Regions from separate parts of the Homo sapiens genome. Here region 2 is linked to region 1. Evidence: fine-mapped expression QTL. Tissue or cell type: whole blood. Region 1 holds a variant in brackets; the other region holds the start of a gene. All regions are shown on one strand. Distances are from middle to middle.

Region 1 (8,188 bases):
AGCTGAGAAGTATCTTAGAGACCTTTCTCCTACAAATAAAGAAGAGATTAATAATCATGGCTTTGCTGCAAAAGAAAAAAAAAAAAGCTAGGTTTCTATGCTGATCAATGACAAAAGACGTTATAACCGGCACTGTTTACAACTGTAGGAGCACACCAGGCCTGTTCTAAAGATGACCCCAGCACAGTTTATCATTCGCATCTCCCATCAGCCAAAAGCATAGATTTGATGCACATTGAAGTAAAATTAATCCTGGACTTAAGAACTATTTTTGTTTATTAAGTGATTTATTCTGAGAAATACTAGTCGATGAGCTCTGAGTTAGGTTTGTTCTGATCCAGTTAATTTTGCAGGTTACTTACCGATAGCCTCCAGGTTTTGAATCTATCAGCTGGTAGATCACCTAGTCTGCTCGCTCACCAGTGTTTAATTTCCTCTATTCAATAGGTTGTCAAACTATGGTCTTTGGGACAAATCTAGCCCACCTCTTGTTTTTATAAATAAACTTTTATTGGAACACAGATGTTATGGACTAAATGGTGGACTCTTCCCCTAAAATTCTTATGTTGAAGCCCTAACCTCCAGCTTTTTATGAAGTAATAAGGGTGGGGCAGTAATCTGTTAGGATTGCAGCCTTATAAGAAGAGGAAGAAACAGATATCCGTCTCTCTCTCTACTATGTGAGGACATAGCAAGAAGGCATCTGTCTGCAAGCCAGGAAACGAGCCCTCACTGGAAACCAAATGGGCCAACACCTTTATCTCGGACTTCCCAGCTGCCAGAACTACGAGAAATAAACTTCTGTTATTTAAGCCACTCTGCCTATGGTATTTTCTTAGGGCAGCCAGAGCAGACTAACTTAATAGTCATGCTCATTTGTTTACTTATTGTCTTTGGTTACCTTTGCAATACAACAGTAGAGTTGAGTAGTTGTGACAGATGCCTAAACTATTTTACTATGTGATCCTTAAGAGAAAAAGTTTGCTAATCCCTGCCCTAGAATATTACCCCCAAAAAAGGCCATTCCAACCTTTCTTTAAATATCTCTAATGACAAAAAAACCTCTGCCTCACAAAATAGCCTTCCCATTTTTGCCAGGCTTGGCTATTGTAAAGACTCCCTTTACACTGAATTTGAAATATACTTCTCCTTAATATCCAACTAAAGATTTTAGCTCTGTCCTTTGAGCACCTCCTACCAACGAAGCAGGCTCCTGTGTTGTTTTCTGTTACTTCTTCTTTAGTAGGAGAATCAGCTGTTAGTGACAGCCTCTGACAGGAAAACAAATAATGCAATCCTCAAAGGTCATCGGCAAAATTCCCCAGTTTCTCTTGCTTTGAACTTGGAAGGTTCTCGAGCAAGTCCGCACTCCTCCAGAGCATCACCCGTTAACACCCCTGGGAACTACTAAATGAAAAAACTAAGGTTGTAGAATTAAAAACACAGTATGAAGATCTACAAGCCTACAAAGTTATCACCAGATATACTTAATAACATATTTTTCCCCTCTCCTCTTCTTTCAAATAGAGTAAACCCCTTCCTTCCAGTAGCACATGGAAAAGTAGGTAATTTAGGTTCACAAGGCGCAAAGTCTTAAATAACCAGTAGTTTTCCTGATGTTCTTTGGTCACTCCTTTTCACTTGCTAAATTAAATTTATAAATTGCATAATCCTATTTGTAGTTAAGAAGAACTCCATCTTATAAATTAAGCCCCATTTCTAGAATACAGCTTCCTATCATCTCTCTCCTAGCATTAATAAGTCACCATGTCTTGAAGAACACTTATCATCACCAGCTCTCCTGAAGTAAAATGCAAGATCACTTCAAAAATGGATGAAGTACTGGGGGTGAGGGCAGGAAAGAAGGATTGCTACATCTTCTAGAATCCCCTACAGAGCTCATCCTTCCAATCACACCACCAAGTTCTGCATCCTCTCTTCACTTTGACTAAACAACTCAGCACAAAGAGGACAGGAATTCTTTATCAAAACAGGTGCAAAGGCAATGCTGGCCTGCCCTCTCCACAATTCAAGGCCTTGAGGCCCTCCCTGGCCTGAAGGCTTATTGGTGTCCTCGCTGATGTCCTAAGCCCAAGCAGAAGAGATTATGTTCTACAGTTTGTTCATATAACCTCAATCAGGAAGGCAACCCAGAGGATGGTAGAGAATGTGGTTCTGGCCACTAATTCGCTTTAAGGTTTTCCCAGAGATGACTCAGTGAGTGTTCTTTAAAAAAAGAAAAAAACAAAGAGCACAATGTGTCTGACCTGGATGGGAATTTGTAGAAAGGTAAACAGCTACATAGCCTAGATTAATGTATACTGCTCCTTCGTTCAGAGTATCACAAGACAACTCTAGCTCATGTAGATGTGTCCAGTACATCAGCCTTCAAAATCTTCTCAAATACGCCAGCTTCCTCTTATATTCTCATACAGTCTACTCCTTTATTAAGATGTAGTTGGAGGGGGGACAAAAAGCCAAAAAAAAAGAAAAAAAGCTTTATTCAATTGTCTAGGAGAAAAAGGTATAAGGAGAGATATAGAAAGTAGAAAAATAAGAGGACTCAGTTACATTACTTCAAGTTTGTCAAAAAGTAACAGGAAGACATACTCCCAAACTATACACTGAACCTTGCTTTAATTGATTGTAATAAAGACTCAAGTATCAATGTTTTCATCTAGTCATGTGATGTCTAGTTTCAAGAAAAACTGGGTTGTTCCATACTTATACCCTCATTGGGTGGTAATGACTATTCTAACTTACAAACAAAGGAAAAGAACCACAAAATGTTCGAGGTAGAAGAAACTTGGAGATGTTCTCATCACTTTGCAGATGTTTCTGAGGCCCTGACTGCAGCACTTCCCTCTTGAGCCAGTGGACAGGCCAAGGGTCCAGGTTTCCTAACTCTGGTGCTCTCGACTTTCCATGAGCCTCTCGCAGCGATGCCTACCAAAAGGAATGACACTCACAGGTACACAACGATTGACATTTGTATATGAATAATGAGGAAAAGCAAAAGCAAAGGTACTTTTTGCCTTTCAGAGTCCTAAAGCCAAATGTCGAATATATTCAATGTAAAACAAAGCATTCTGGGGGCACTGTAATAATAAAATGTTAGCCTAAGAGGGTCTCTGTAAAAAAAGAATACTGAAATGGGCAGGGTGTAGTGGCTCGTGCCTATAGTCCCAGCACTTTGGTAGGCTGAGGCAGGAGGATCTCTTGAGCCCAGGTGTTTGAGACCAGCCTGGGCTACATAATGAGACCCCATCTCTAAAAATAATTTTAAAATTAGCTGGGTGTGGTGGCACGCCTGTGGTCCCAGCTACTTCAGTGGCTGAGATGAGAGGATCGCTTGAGCCCAGGAGGTCAAGGCTAATGTGAGCTGAGATTGCTCCACTACACTCCAGCCTGTGCAACAGCATGAGACTTTGTCTCAAAGTAAAAAAAGAAAGGACACTGAAATCTACAAACATAGAGAATATGTCTGACCCTCTGCTAAACGTGTATTTATATGATGCCACAGTTCCTGTACTTATCAAAATACTGTCTTTGTAACCTAAACTAGCTGAAAAGGCACTAAAATAGTTATGTGAGCATTTGTGTCAAGCAAATGAAATCTATTTCTTGAATAACTACTGTCTGTAAAACCTTGACAGGCATTATAAATTATATCCCAATCCAAAAAGGCAAATATGTTGTCTCTAACTCTCTGAACATATTTAGAAAGATAAAATATACCCAAGTGTCGCAGTTAAGAATACAGGATGGCATCAGGAACCATAAGGACTAGCAGGGCAGTGAAAGTTCAGAGGCAGGGCACATTCAAGTCAGCAAGGGATGAATCTGCAAACACTGGTAGATGAAAAAGATGCTTCATCTCACTGGGGGGAAAACCTATTCAAAGATAGCTGCCTGGATTAGCTTTGCCCTGCTGAGCTCCTCACAGCTCCCCCTTTTGCAGGCTCTCTTCTTCCTCCATCTTTAATAGAGTATGAAAAGCTGCAGGGAAAGGTAGTTATGTGCATTTAAAGAAACAGCAATGACACCAAATGAAATGAACAAGCCATGGAATTTA[T/C]AAATTCAAACATTAGATATTTTCCGGTACTCCTGCCAGAATCATGGGACAGACTTAAGCAGCTGCTTTTCAAAGAGCTAACCATTGCGTTAGCCAAAAATGTTGGCCCACAGTTAGTTAAAACAGCTGTTTTCCCTCTTCTTCACCAAGCAGCAAGATCTCCTTACCTACTCAGCAGTACAAAATCCTTGAAACTGAAATCAAGGCAAAAGAGACGCAAGGCAAAATGTTTCCTAGAACAAGGATAAGTTAGTAAGCTCCAAAGAAGAAAATTTACTCAAGCAATGAGGAGACTAATCACAGGAAAAATTATTCAAGCAACCTACCCTCTCTATGGGTATTTCAAGCAAAATACCCATAAAGTTATTTTCAAGGATTATTTTATGGAAAAAATAATTTAAAGATGAATGAAAAATTGATTCCAAATGAATGCATTAAAAAATGCATGCTTATCAAATAAGCAAGACTGACAAATCTTTATTTTATTTTATTTTTTTATTATTATTATACTTTAAGTTTTAGGGTACATGTGCACAATGTGCAGGTTAGTTACATATGTATACATGTGCCATGCTGGTGCGCTGCACCCACTAAACTTGTCATCTATCATTAGGTATATCTCCCAATGCTATCCCTCCCCCCTCCCCCCACCCCACAACAGTCCCCAGAGTGTGATGTTCCCCTTCCTGTGTCCATGTGTTCTCATTGTTCAATTCCCACCTATGAGTGAGAATATGCGGTGTTTGGTTTTTTGTTCTTGCGATAGTTTACTGAGAATGATGATTTCCAATTTCATCCATGTCCCTACAAAGGACATGAACTCATCATTTTTTATGGCTGCATAGTATTCCATGGTGTATATGTGCCACATTTTCTTAATCCAGTCTATCATTGTTGGACATTTGGGTTGGTTCCAAGTCTTTGCTATTGTGAATAGTGCCACAATAAACATACCTGTGCATGTGTCTTTAGAGCAGCATGATTTATAGTCCTTTGGATATATACCCTGTAATGGGATGGCTGGGTCAAATGGTATTTCTAGTTCTAGATCCCTGAGGAATCGCCACACTGACTTCCACAATGGTTGAACTAGTTTACAGTCCCACCAACAGTGTAAAAGTGTTCCTATTTCTCCACAACCTCTCCAGCACCTGTTGTTTCCTGACTTTTTAATGATTGCCATTCTAACTGGTGTGAGATGGTATCTCATTGTGGTTTTGATTTGCATTTCTCTGATGGCCAGTGATGATGAGCATTTTTTCATGTTTTTTGGCTGCATAAATGACTTCTTTTGAGAAGTGTCTGTTCATGTCCTTTGCCCACTTTTTGATGGGGTTGTTTGTCTTTTTCTTGTAAATTTGTTTGAGTTCATTGTAGATTCTGGATATTAGCCCTTTGTCAGACGAGTAGGTTGTGAAAATTTTCTCCCATTTTGTGGGTTGCCTGTTCACTCTGATGGTAGTTTCTTTTGCTGTGCAGAAGCTCTTTAGTTTAATTAGATCCCATTTGTCAATTTTGGCTTTTGTTGCCATTGCTTTTGGTGTTTTAGACATGAAGTCCTTGCCCATGCCTATGTCCTGAATGGTAATGCCTAGGTTTTCTTCTAGGGTTTTTATGGTTTTAGGTCTAACGTTTAAGTCTTTAATCCATCTTGAATTGATTTTTGTATAAGGTGTAAGGAAGGGATCCAGTTTCAGCTTTCTACATATGGCTAGCCAGTTTTCCCAGCACCATTTATTGAATAGGGAATCCTTTCCCCATTGCTTGTTTTTCTCAGGTTTGTCAAAGATCAGATAGTTGTAGATATACAGCGTTATTTCTGAGGGCTCTATTCTGTTCCCTTGATCTATATCTCTGTTTTGGTACCAGTACCATGCTGTTTTGGTTACTGTAGCCTTGTAGTATAGTTTGAAGTCAGGTAGTGTGATGCCTCCAGCTTTGTTCTTTTGGCTTAGGATTGACTTGGCGATGTGGGCTCTTTTTTGGTTCCATATGAACTTTAAAGTAGTTTTTTCCAATTCTGTGAGGAAAGTCATTGGTAGCTTGATGGGGATGGCATTGAATCTATAAATTACCTTGGGCAGTATGGCCATTTTCACAATATTGATTCTTCCTACCCATGAGTATGGAATGTTCTTCCATTTGTTTGTATCCTCTTTTATTTCATTGAGCAGTGGTTTGTAGTTCTCCTTGAAGAGGTCCTTCACGTCCCTTGTAAGGTGGATTCCTAGGTATTTTATTCTCTTTGAAGCAATTGTGAATGGGAGTTCACTCATGATTTGGCCCTCTGTTTGTCTGTTATTGGTGTATAAGAATGCTTGTGATTTATATACATTGATTTTGTATCCTGAGACTTTGCTGACGTTGCTTATCAGCTTAAGGAGATTTTGGGCTGAGACAATGGGGTTTTCTAGATATACAATCATGTCGTCTGCAAACAGGGACAATTTGACTTCCTCTTTTCCTAATTGAATACCCTTTATTTCCTTCTCCTGCCTAATTGCCCTGGCCAGAACTTCCAACACTATGTTGAATAGGAATGGTGAGAGATGGCATCCCTGTCTTGTGCCAGTTTTCAAAGGGAATGCTTCCAGTTTTTGCCCATTCAGTATGATATTGGCTGTGGGTTTGTCATAGATAGCTCTTATTATTTTGAGATACGTCCCATCAATACCTAATTTATTGAGAGTTTTTAGCATGAAGGGTTGTTGAATTTTGTCAAAGGCCTTTTCTGCATCTATAGAGATAATCATGTGGTTTTTGTCTTTGGTTCTGTTTATATGATGTATTACATTGATTGATTTGCATATATTGAACCAGCCTTGCATCCCAGGGATGAAGCCCACTTGATCATGGTGGATAAGCTTTTTGATGTGCTGCTGGATCCGGTTTGCCAGTATTTTATTGAGGATTTTTGCATCAATGTTCATGAAGGATATGGGTCTAAAATTCTCTTTTTTGGTTGTGTCTCTGCCCAGCTTTGGTATCAGGATGATGCTGGCCTCATAAAATGAGTTAGGGAGGATTCCCTCTTTTTCTATTGATTGGAATAGTTTCAGAAGGAATGGTACCAGTTCCTCCTTGTACCTCTGGTAGAATTCAGCTGTAAATCCATCTGGTCCTGGACTCTTTTTGGTTGGTAAGCTATTGATTATTGCCACAATTTCAGATCCTGTTATTGGTCTATTCAGAGATTCAACTTCTTCCTGGTTTAGTCTTGGGAGAGTGTATGTGTCGAGGAATTTATCCATTTCTTCTAGATTTTCTAGTTTATTTGCGTAGAGGTGTTTGTAGTATTCTCTGATGGTAGTTTGTATTTCTGTGGGATCGGTGGTGATATCCCCTTTATCATTTTTTATTGCATCTATTTGATTCTTCTCTCTTTTTTTCTTTATTAGTCTTGCTAACGGTCTATCAATTTTGTTGATCCTTTCAAAAAACCAGCTCCTGGATTCATTAATTTTTTGAAGGGTTTTTTGTGTCTCTATTTCCTTCAGTTCTGCTCTGATTTTAGTTATTTCTTGCCTTCTGCTAGCTTTCGAATGTGTTTGCTCTTGCTTTTCTAATTCTTTTAATTGTGATGTTAGGGTGTCAATTTTGGATCTTTCCTGCTTTCTCTTGTGGGCATTTAGTGCTATAAATTTCCCTCTACACACTGCTTTGAATGTGTCCCAGAGATTCTGGTATGTTGTGTCTTTGTTCTCGTTGGTTTCAAAAAACATCTTTATTTCTGCCTTCATTTCGTTATGTACCCAGTAGTCATTCTGGAGCAGGTTGTTCAGTTTCCATGTAGTTGAGCGGTTTTGAGTGAGTTTCTTAATTCTGAGTTCTAGTTTGATTGCGCTGTGGTCTGAGAGATAGTTTGTTATAATTTATGTTCTTCTACATTTGCTGAGGAGTGCTTTACTTCCAACTATGTGGTCAATTTTGGAATAGGTGTGATGTGGTGCTGAAAAAAATGTATATTCTGTTGATATAGGGTAGAGAGTTCTGTAGATGTCTATTAGGTCCGCTTGGTGCAGAGCTGAGTTCAATTCCTGGGTATCCTTGTTAACTTTCTGTCTCGTTGATCTGTCTAATGTTGACAGTGGGGTGTTAAAGTCTCCCATTATT
Region 2 (8,188 bases), 64 kb after region 1:
CTCTACTAAAAGTACAAAATTAGCCAGGCATGGTGGCACATGCCTGTAATCCCAGCTACCTGGGAGACTGAGGCAGGAGAATCTCTTGAACCCAGGAGGCAGAGGTTGCGGTGAGCCGAGATAGTACCATTGCATTCCAGCCTGGGCAACAAGAGCGAAACTCCGTCTCAAAAAAAAAAAAATAGCAGGCTGAAGGAATAACTTTTCACAGAGAACCCAAAAGACTCTCTAAGAAACCAAAGGTTTAGATTCTGTACAGAAAACCCAGAGAATCACCTAGGAAATAGCCAAGACTAGCCACAGAATCTCTCACTAAATACAAATTTCATTTAACCAGCTCAGATAAAAAAAATCCTGGTATTTTCCTGCACCTCCCCCTTCTGTCTCCCAATCCATTAACAAATCCAACTGAAGAAATCCTCTTGTTTCTACATGTAAAACGTGTTCTCACAACCATTCTCACCATTTCACTGCCACCATGCTTGTCCAAGCCAGAAGTCATCTCTTGCCCATACATAGACCAGCAATAGTCCCCTGGTTGGTCTCCAGGCTTCCACTCTCCTGCACTGTAGCCTTCACACAACAGAGTGACCTTTAAAAAGGCAAATCTAATCATGCTACTCTAAGCTCAAAGCCTCCAATAACTTCCCATCACATGTAGAATAAAAGCCAAAGTGTTTCCTATGGCTCACAGCCTTTCATGATGTGCCCTAGACTTTGAACTCCTCTCCTACCCTCTGGTTCCCAGGTCTCCAGCCACACTGGCCTGCTGACTATTCCTGAAACTTGTCAAGCTCGTGCCTGCCTCAGGGCCTCTATCCTCCCCACTCCTGTGTTTTTCCTCTTTGCTGGAAATGCACTTCTCCTTAAAAGTGACCTTTTCAAACAGGTCTTTTTGTTTAGAAGTCACCTTATCAAAATACCTATCTTGAACCACTTTTTAAAAAATAGCAATGCTTTCCAACCAGCCTTCACTGTCTCTTCCTTTAACCTGCTCAATTTTTCTTCAGTGTGCCACCTGCCTTACATTATTTATTAATTTGGTATATATGTCTATCTCCTCCATTAGAATGTCCATTAGGGAAAGGACTTTGTTTTCTTTACCACTCGATTTCAAGTACTTAGAATAGTGCCTGCCACATTAGAGGTACAAAATAAATATGAGATAATTAACTAGGTGAATAGATAAATAAATGAATGATATCACCAAGATATGTTTCAAGTTCTTACACAAACACAATATTTGGCCCAGTGTCTACTATAAACGGTAGAATATTTCCTCAAGTCAACACCAAAAAGGGATGTTATAATAAAGCAGGTCGGACAACAGTCTCACATTACTGAATAACGATACTGATCTGATGTTGATGATTGCTTCTTTACTTTTTTTCTTTTTTTTTTTTTTTTGAGAGAGGGTGTCACTCTGTTGCCCAGGTTGGAGTACAGATCACGGCTCACTGCAGCCTCAACCTCCTGGGCTCAAACGATCCTCCCACCTCAGCCTCCCTCGTAGCTAGGACCACAGGTGTACGCCACCACGCCCAGTTAATTTTTTAATTTTTTGTAGAGACAGGGTCTCGCCAGTTGCCCAGACTGGTCTAAACTCCACCTACCTCTGCCTCCCAAGTGCTGGGATTATAGGCATGAGCCACTGTGCCCAGCCTGATGATTATTTTCAACAGGCCTTGTGTTTCCTAAGCCCCAAAAGCCTTCCCATTTCTCATTCCACTGCCATTTGAGACCCATGGCCACCTGATTGAAACCTCAAGGTTTTGCTAAGAATTTATGAAGAGAGTTAAGAAATCTCTTCAAATTGTTCCTATGAGGAAGTTATTTCATACTATGAGCAAATTCATTTTCATTAAGTATCTGTTGTAACCAAACGTTGTTTCTTAGCTTCTTAGCTCTGTAATATGGCACAATAATCTGACTTACTGAAGCCACTCATTATTTCCCATTGGCTTAATTCTTTCTTTCTTTTTTTTTTTTTTTAGAGATAGAATCTCTCTATGTTGGCCATGCTGGTCTTGAACTCTTGGCCTCAAGAAATTTTCCCACCTCGGCCTCATAGACTCTTTCTATGTTGGCCATGCTGGTCTTGAACTCCTGGACTCAAGGGATCCTCCTACCTTGGCCTCCCAAAGCTCTCACGTACCAGCACCCATTGGCTTAATTATTTCAGTAAAATCAGGCAAGGAGGAACCCTACAAAATAAACACAGGCATTCTCAAAGCAGATATAAGTGAAAACTCAGAGTATACTGTGGTCAGCTGTGTTCTCTATCACAAGTAGTTTGTCAACTTAAAATAAAGTACTAAAGTTTGGGAATGATCTACTCTAAAAATACATCGGACAATGGTCAATGTCATTTACAACATTCACCTCCTTTCTGATACACATCTCAGGAAAAAAAAAAAAAAAACTACTAAGTACCAGGTCAGAAATTTGGCACAACCCTAGATGACCACCTTGTCATGCAAATAAACTTAGAATGGTGCTCCTGAAAGTCAGCCACAGTGCTTCAAAAACACATGATTTTTTAAAACACCAAACTAAGCATACCACATAGTATAGAGACCAGGCTATGGAGTTGAGACCACCTGGGTTAGAATTCCATTTCTTTCCATTTAGTTGCTGTCACCTTCCTAATTTCTCTGTGTTCCATAATTCCATATTATCCATAAAATTCAGATATGAACACTTACTATACAGAGTTGTTATGAGGATTGGACAATGTATGCATCCCACAAGTAGATCAATTACAAGTACATTTTGCCCCAAGTAAAGACAACACGTGGGAACGCTGTGCAAGAGGGAACAGCAAAAGCAGTTGGAGGATGGAAGTCAGTTTGCAAACCTATGCGCACAGGCAGCCAAACACGAAAACGTTCCCCACAAGTAGTCTGTAAATTGGAGACTCCATTGGGATACACACACACACACACACACACGCCCTGAGAGGAAATAGCACCTTTCTTCATCACCAAGTTAGCCTTAAAAATTATTTACCCGTTGTTAGCCACACTAGCACTGACAAACCCAACTTTACTCTTGTAGGTCATTCTCCACAACGTCTGTGCTGCGTCAATCCCAAATCTGACTCCCTGACGCTTAACAGCGAAAATAAAAAACCGAGACATTACTCAATAGAGTTAACCCTTACTTAACAAAACGCTGTTGTCCCCTGTGGCGTGCAGACAGTAGAGACAGTAATTCCCGACCTTATGCTTGTCAGTGACGGCATGCCCTTTGTATACACGCTTCAGTAGAGAACGACTGCAGTAAGTAAACTGCTAGTAGCAACACTGTTCCCCTATCTAAACTTCCCCTTTCCAGAGTTACTGATGTCCCAACATGGGTCGGTCGCTCAGTCTCCGTCAAGCCCGTACCCCATAGCTTGGGCATTTCCCCCCGCAGATCACAAGATGCAAAGGGGAAGTTACTACCAAACCGACGAGAATGGCCCAGAGCTGGGGGCTGCCAGGCGGTTCCTGGGCCCCTCTCAGCACCAGAAGAAGGCGGGCGCAGGCTCGCCGCGGGTCGGCCGCACGCCATACCTGGATCAGGCCCTGCTGGAACAAGGCGCTGTGCACGCAGCCAGGGACCGCCCCGGGCAGCTCCAGCGAGCCGTTCCCATTGCAGATGCTCCAGTTGCCACGCAAGCTGTAACTGAGCTCCGCGGCGGTGGTGCCTGCACCGCACAGCGCGAGCAGCAGGAGCAGGTGGAGGCGCATCTTGAGATCCCGCGCCACCGAGATGTGGAGAGATCGAAAGGCAGCGCTGCAAGGGACCGGCGGTGAAGCCACTCACCCCCTCGGAAGTAGCCGAGGCTTTAGGTCCCCGCCCCGGCCCCGCCCCTAGGTCAGCTGAGCGCTCTCCGGGCGCAGCCGCGGGCGGGAGGGGAACGAGGAGGCTGCGCCTGCACCCGCTGAAAGCCGGGCGTCGCGGGTGCGGGAGCTGCAGCCCCCGAGAATAGCTACAGGCTGGGGGGCATTGCGGTCTGAGCCTTCCCTCGGCGCTTCTTCCCGCCGCCTCAGTACATACAACTGGAGGCAAGAATCTTGCACGGTAATTGGGACAGAAAGATCCCTGGGCGCGCAGTGGCACAAAGCCTCGGGAGATCAGAGACCGACTGTACGTGGAGACCATAGCTGGAGAGTCCCCTCACTCCTTCAGAGAACCCAAACTGGGAGACAACCCACCACTTCCCTTCCGCCAAATTTACACAGACCCTCGTCTACCTGGTAGCGTAACACTCACCCCGCTGCAGCTCAACTCGCGGGTCTCAGAGCCTACCCCGCCCTTCAAAGAGTAAACAAGTACTAGCAGTATCTCCATCAGAAGGTTGTTCTGAGGGCTAACCAAGAAAATGCGACTATAGCATGCAGCATGGAGCCTGGCCCAGAGAAGGCATTCACGTTAGCTATTGTTACTAGCGGCCTGCGTCCTTATGTTTCATAAAGCCCCACGGAGGTTTCTGAGGTTCTGGAACCTGCACTAGGCGCGCAGCTGAGTTTAAAATCCTCTGCACTCACTAGCTGTGGGACCTGGGCAAGCCGCAAAATCTCCATCTCCGTTTCTTGAAGTTTTCAAGGTGTTATAAGTATAAAATGAGTAAACATATGTGATCGTCCCTAACAATGCCAGAGTACCCAAGAAATACCACTGACTTATTTCGGGTCTTGTAGTCAAATGGTCTACCTGAGTCCCATTTTTGCAATAGGATGTAACAGTAATCCTAGAAGTTAAGACGGAATTTTACATTGCATAAAATAGACTGCCTTTCTCCTGTGTTGACGCTATCTGCCGTATATTTATGCTTCGGAAGAAGTCCTTGAAAAGAAATTTTCTCTCATCAAATCTGAGCTTTGTTTCGCCTTACAATGGCCTTGGAATTGCCTGATTCTGCAGACACCGGGCAATATCTTACTTTGCAAAGTCAGCATTATTTACAAGCCCTGAATATCTTGGCTTAAAGGACAGTATGGATTATCCAACCCAAGCCGCTGGCTTTACAGATGAGGGAACTGAGTTCAAAGAGATCGGGGCCAGGCGCGGTGGCTCACGTCTGTAATCCCAGCACTTCTGGGAGGCCGAGGCGGGTGGATCACTTGAGGTCAGGAGTTCGAGGCCAGCCTGGCCAACATGGTGAAACCCTGTCTCTATTAAAAATACAAAAATTAGCTGGGCGCGTGGTGGCACGTGCCTGTAGTCGCAGGTGCTCGGGAAACTGAGGCAGGAGAACCGCTTGAACCCAGGAAGCAGAGGTTGCAGTAAGCCGAGATGGCACTACTGCACTCCAGCCTGGGCTATAGAGAAAGACTCTAAAAAAAAAAAAAAAAAAAAGATCAGGTGACTTGCCTGTCACATAGTGGCAGACAGGATTAGAACCCTCCTCTTCAAGGTCCTACTGTCAGAGCCCAATGATGCTATAGGGGAAACGCTCTCACTGCTTCAAAGCCTTCCTCACTCACTCCAGAAGCATTTTTACCTTTGATAGAAACAAAGCTCTCAATTCAAATTATATGCCATAATTCACGGCATTAAATGGCTAGCCATGGTCTGTGCAACACTGATAACACAAGGTTTATGGCAACAAGAGCGGCAAAGGAATTTTTTCATAATTCCCAGAGATTTCATTAAGCCAAATCAGAGGAAAATTCATCCTTGATGATACATATGGATATATTCTGTTTATTAAGAAATATAATTTTTAGAAAAACAATAATAGAAGATTCTCATTCCTCCTTTCATTCCAGGATGCAAGCATAACATCATTTAGGTTACTTCACTTTGACAACAGAGAACATCAAAGAATAATCAAAGCCCTAATAAGTACTCTTCCTAAAATTGCAATTGGCACAGATGACATGATGTTTTCATTTTGTTATAGGATAATTTTTGTCCATGATTTTCTGGTAAATAAACCTTATTTAGAGATAACATAAAACTTCTCAACTTATGTAATTTAAAGTCATGATACCAAATGCAATGTTTAAAATAGTTATGGGTATCTTTAACTTACACTGTATAAACAGATTTCATTTTGATCATTTCATTTGATGCTTCCCAAAACTTGAATTATTTAGAACAAGTGATCGTTCCCTGGTTTAAAAAGATAAATAATGCCCACGGTGATTAAATGATGTGTAGGGTCAGTATCCTGTCACAACAGACCAATGGAAGTAGTTAGGCCCTTTGCTATATGACAACATTTCCTTCATATCTAAATATATAAAATTGGTAAACTCATTAGAACACCATGGTATATACCAAGGCCAATGATATTCCAATCCCATGATATATTACAGAAGTTATAATAAGGGAAAGAAAATGAAAGAGTAATCAGATGTGGAGTGGACATTTGCCTTTAGACTCATAGTGTCTGATTAAACCCCAGGACTGGGGATAATAGCCCATAAGTATCCTGCCCAAAGGTTTGACATACTTCCCCAGAGTTTGAAGCCCCAAATGTTAGAACAAAGAGAGAAGGTAGTGGAAACTATGTACACCACTAGAATTTGGTGTGTCAAGGATGCATATGCATGAGTTTCCTATAAACCAAGAGGACACCGTAGGAAGTAACCAGGCTTGAGCCAGTATAATGGGATTCTACCCAAGAGAGTCCAAGAAGTCAACTAGAGGACACATGGCCTATGTCAGCAAACTGTGTATATATATACATATACTGTATATATACATATATACATATACGTATATATATACATATACTGTATATATACATACATACATATACTGTATATATACATATATACATACATATACAAATATATATTTTAAATATATATAATTTATATAATAATATAAATATATAAAAATATATAATATAATTATATTATATAATATAATTATATAATTAGGAATATAATATATTATATTCCTAAATAATGCATGGGTCAAAACAATAATAGATTTCCAATTTCTGGCCTGGCATGTAAGGACCTTGGAAGTCATCACTCTATCCTAAAAAGCAAGTAAAAAGCTGCACAAATTGAAAATAGACAACTCTTCTTAGATGAGTCAAAGAAGTGAGGTCACAGGGCAGACTGCTGCCCCAAAATTAGAGATGTAGACAGGTAGATACAGGCAATTACAACTTAACTGAGTAGACCACACACACTACCCCACAACCGTTGTCCCATAGCTGAAATCTCAGTGGGAACCAGTACAGAGTAGGAAGACCTGGACTATAATTGACAAATTACTGGAGGACCAATATGCACAAATTTGAGAGTTAAAAACTCCAAGGGGGCCCAGTCTTAGGGGAGCAGCTGTGCTTTTGTAAGTTTGCCTCCAGGAGCTCCACAAAGCTCTCATAGTGAAGATTGAAGAAAAATCCTCTCGTGTTTCCTGCAAGGGAGGAGGAAAGTAACTATTCTGAATGTGCCAGAGATTCTGTGCTTCTTAACAAGACCCACTCTCAAAAGAAACAATTTTACCAGAGCTGAACCAACTGGGGTTTTATCAGAGTCTCGCCAGCCTGGGAGAAGGAAAATACCCAACTCCAGCCCCCCATAGACATTCTGCCCCATCTAAGGGGGTGAAACATAGCTGAGAAGCACTGTGAAGTTCACAGTCCAGGGGACTGGGCTCACTAGATGACTGAGACCTAATCAGAGGAAAATAGACCATTTTCCCTCTCCCAACACCTTCCCAACACATCACTGAAGGCCTATTTATGGCAATTCCTTTCACCCAGGATGTCATGTATGGCTTTCAACAAAAATTTACAAAGCCAAAGATACAACTTGGAAAGACAAAGCAAATGCCAAAACCAAACTCACATATGGGAGGAATGTCAGAATTATCAGTCCAGGAATTTAAAATAACTATGATTAATATGCTGAGAGCTCTAATGGAAAATTTACACAACATACAAAAACAGATGGGTAACGTAAGCAGAGACATGGAAATTCTAAAAAATAATAAAAAATGCTAGAGATGAAAAGCACCATAACAGAAATGAAGAATGGCGTATTAGTAGATGGAACACGGCTGAGAAAAGAATCTCTGAGCTTGAGGGTATGTCAACAGAAACTTTCAAAACCAAAAAGCAGAGAAAAATGTATGCAAGAAATGAACAGAATATCCAAGAACTGGGGGACAACTACAAAAGATATTGTCAATGAAAAGAGTCAAACTCTATAAATATTTGAAGAGATTTATT

The links. PIP is the estimated chance that this variant, and not a neighbour inherited with it, causes the effect.
Region 2: it holds the start of MANBA, and the variant in region 1 is fine-mapped to the expression of MANBA in whole blood (INTERVAL, PIP above 0.99).

What each region holds. Positions count from the first base shown.
Region 1 is chr4:102,692,791-102,700,978 of GRCh38, forward strand. All of the region lies in intron 5 of MANBA (mannosidase beta), which reads right to left. Among named protein-coding and RNA genes, the nearest start is that of MANBA, 64 kb to the right of the region's middle. The variant T/C (reference allele first, on the strand shown) is at 4,076.
Region 2 is chr4:102,757,161-102,765,348 of GRCh38, forward strand. It overlaps MANBA (mannosidase beta), which reads right to left and starts at 3,808. Exons shown (of 17, transcript NM_005908.4): 1 at 3,558-3,808. The coding sequence starts at 3,734. RefSeq lists an enhancer at 3,403-3,752 and a silencer at 3,843-3,972.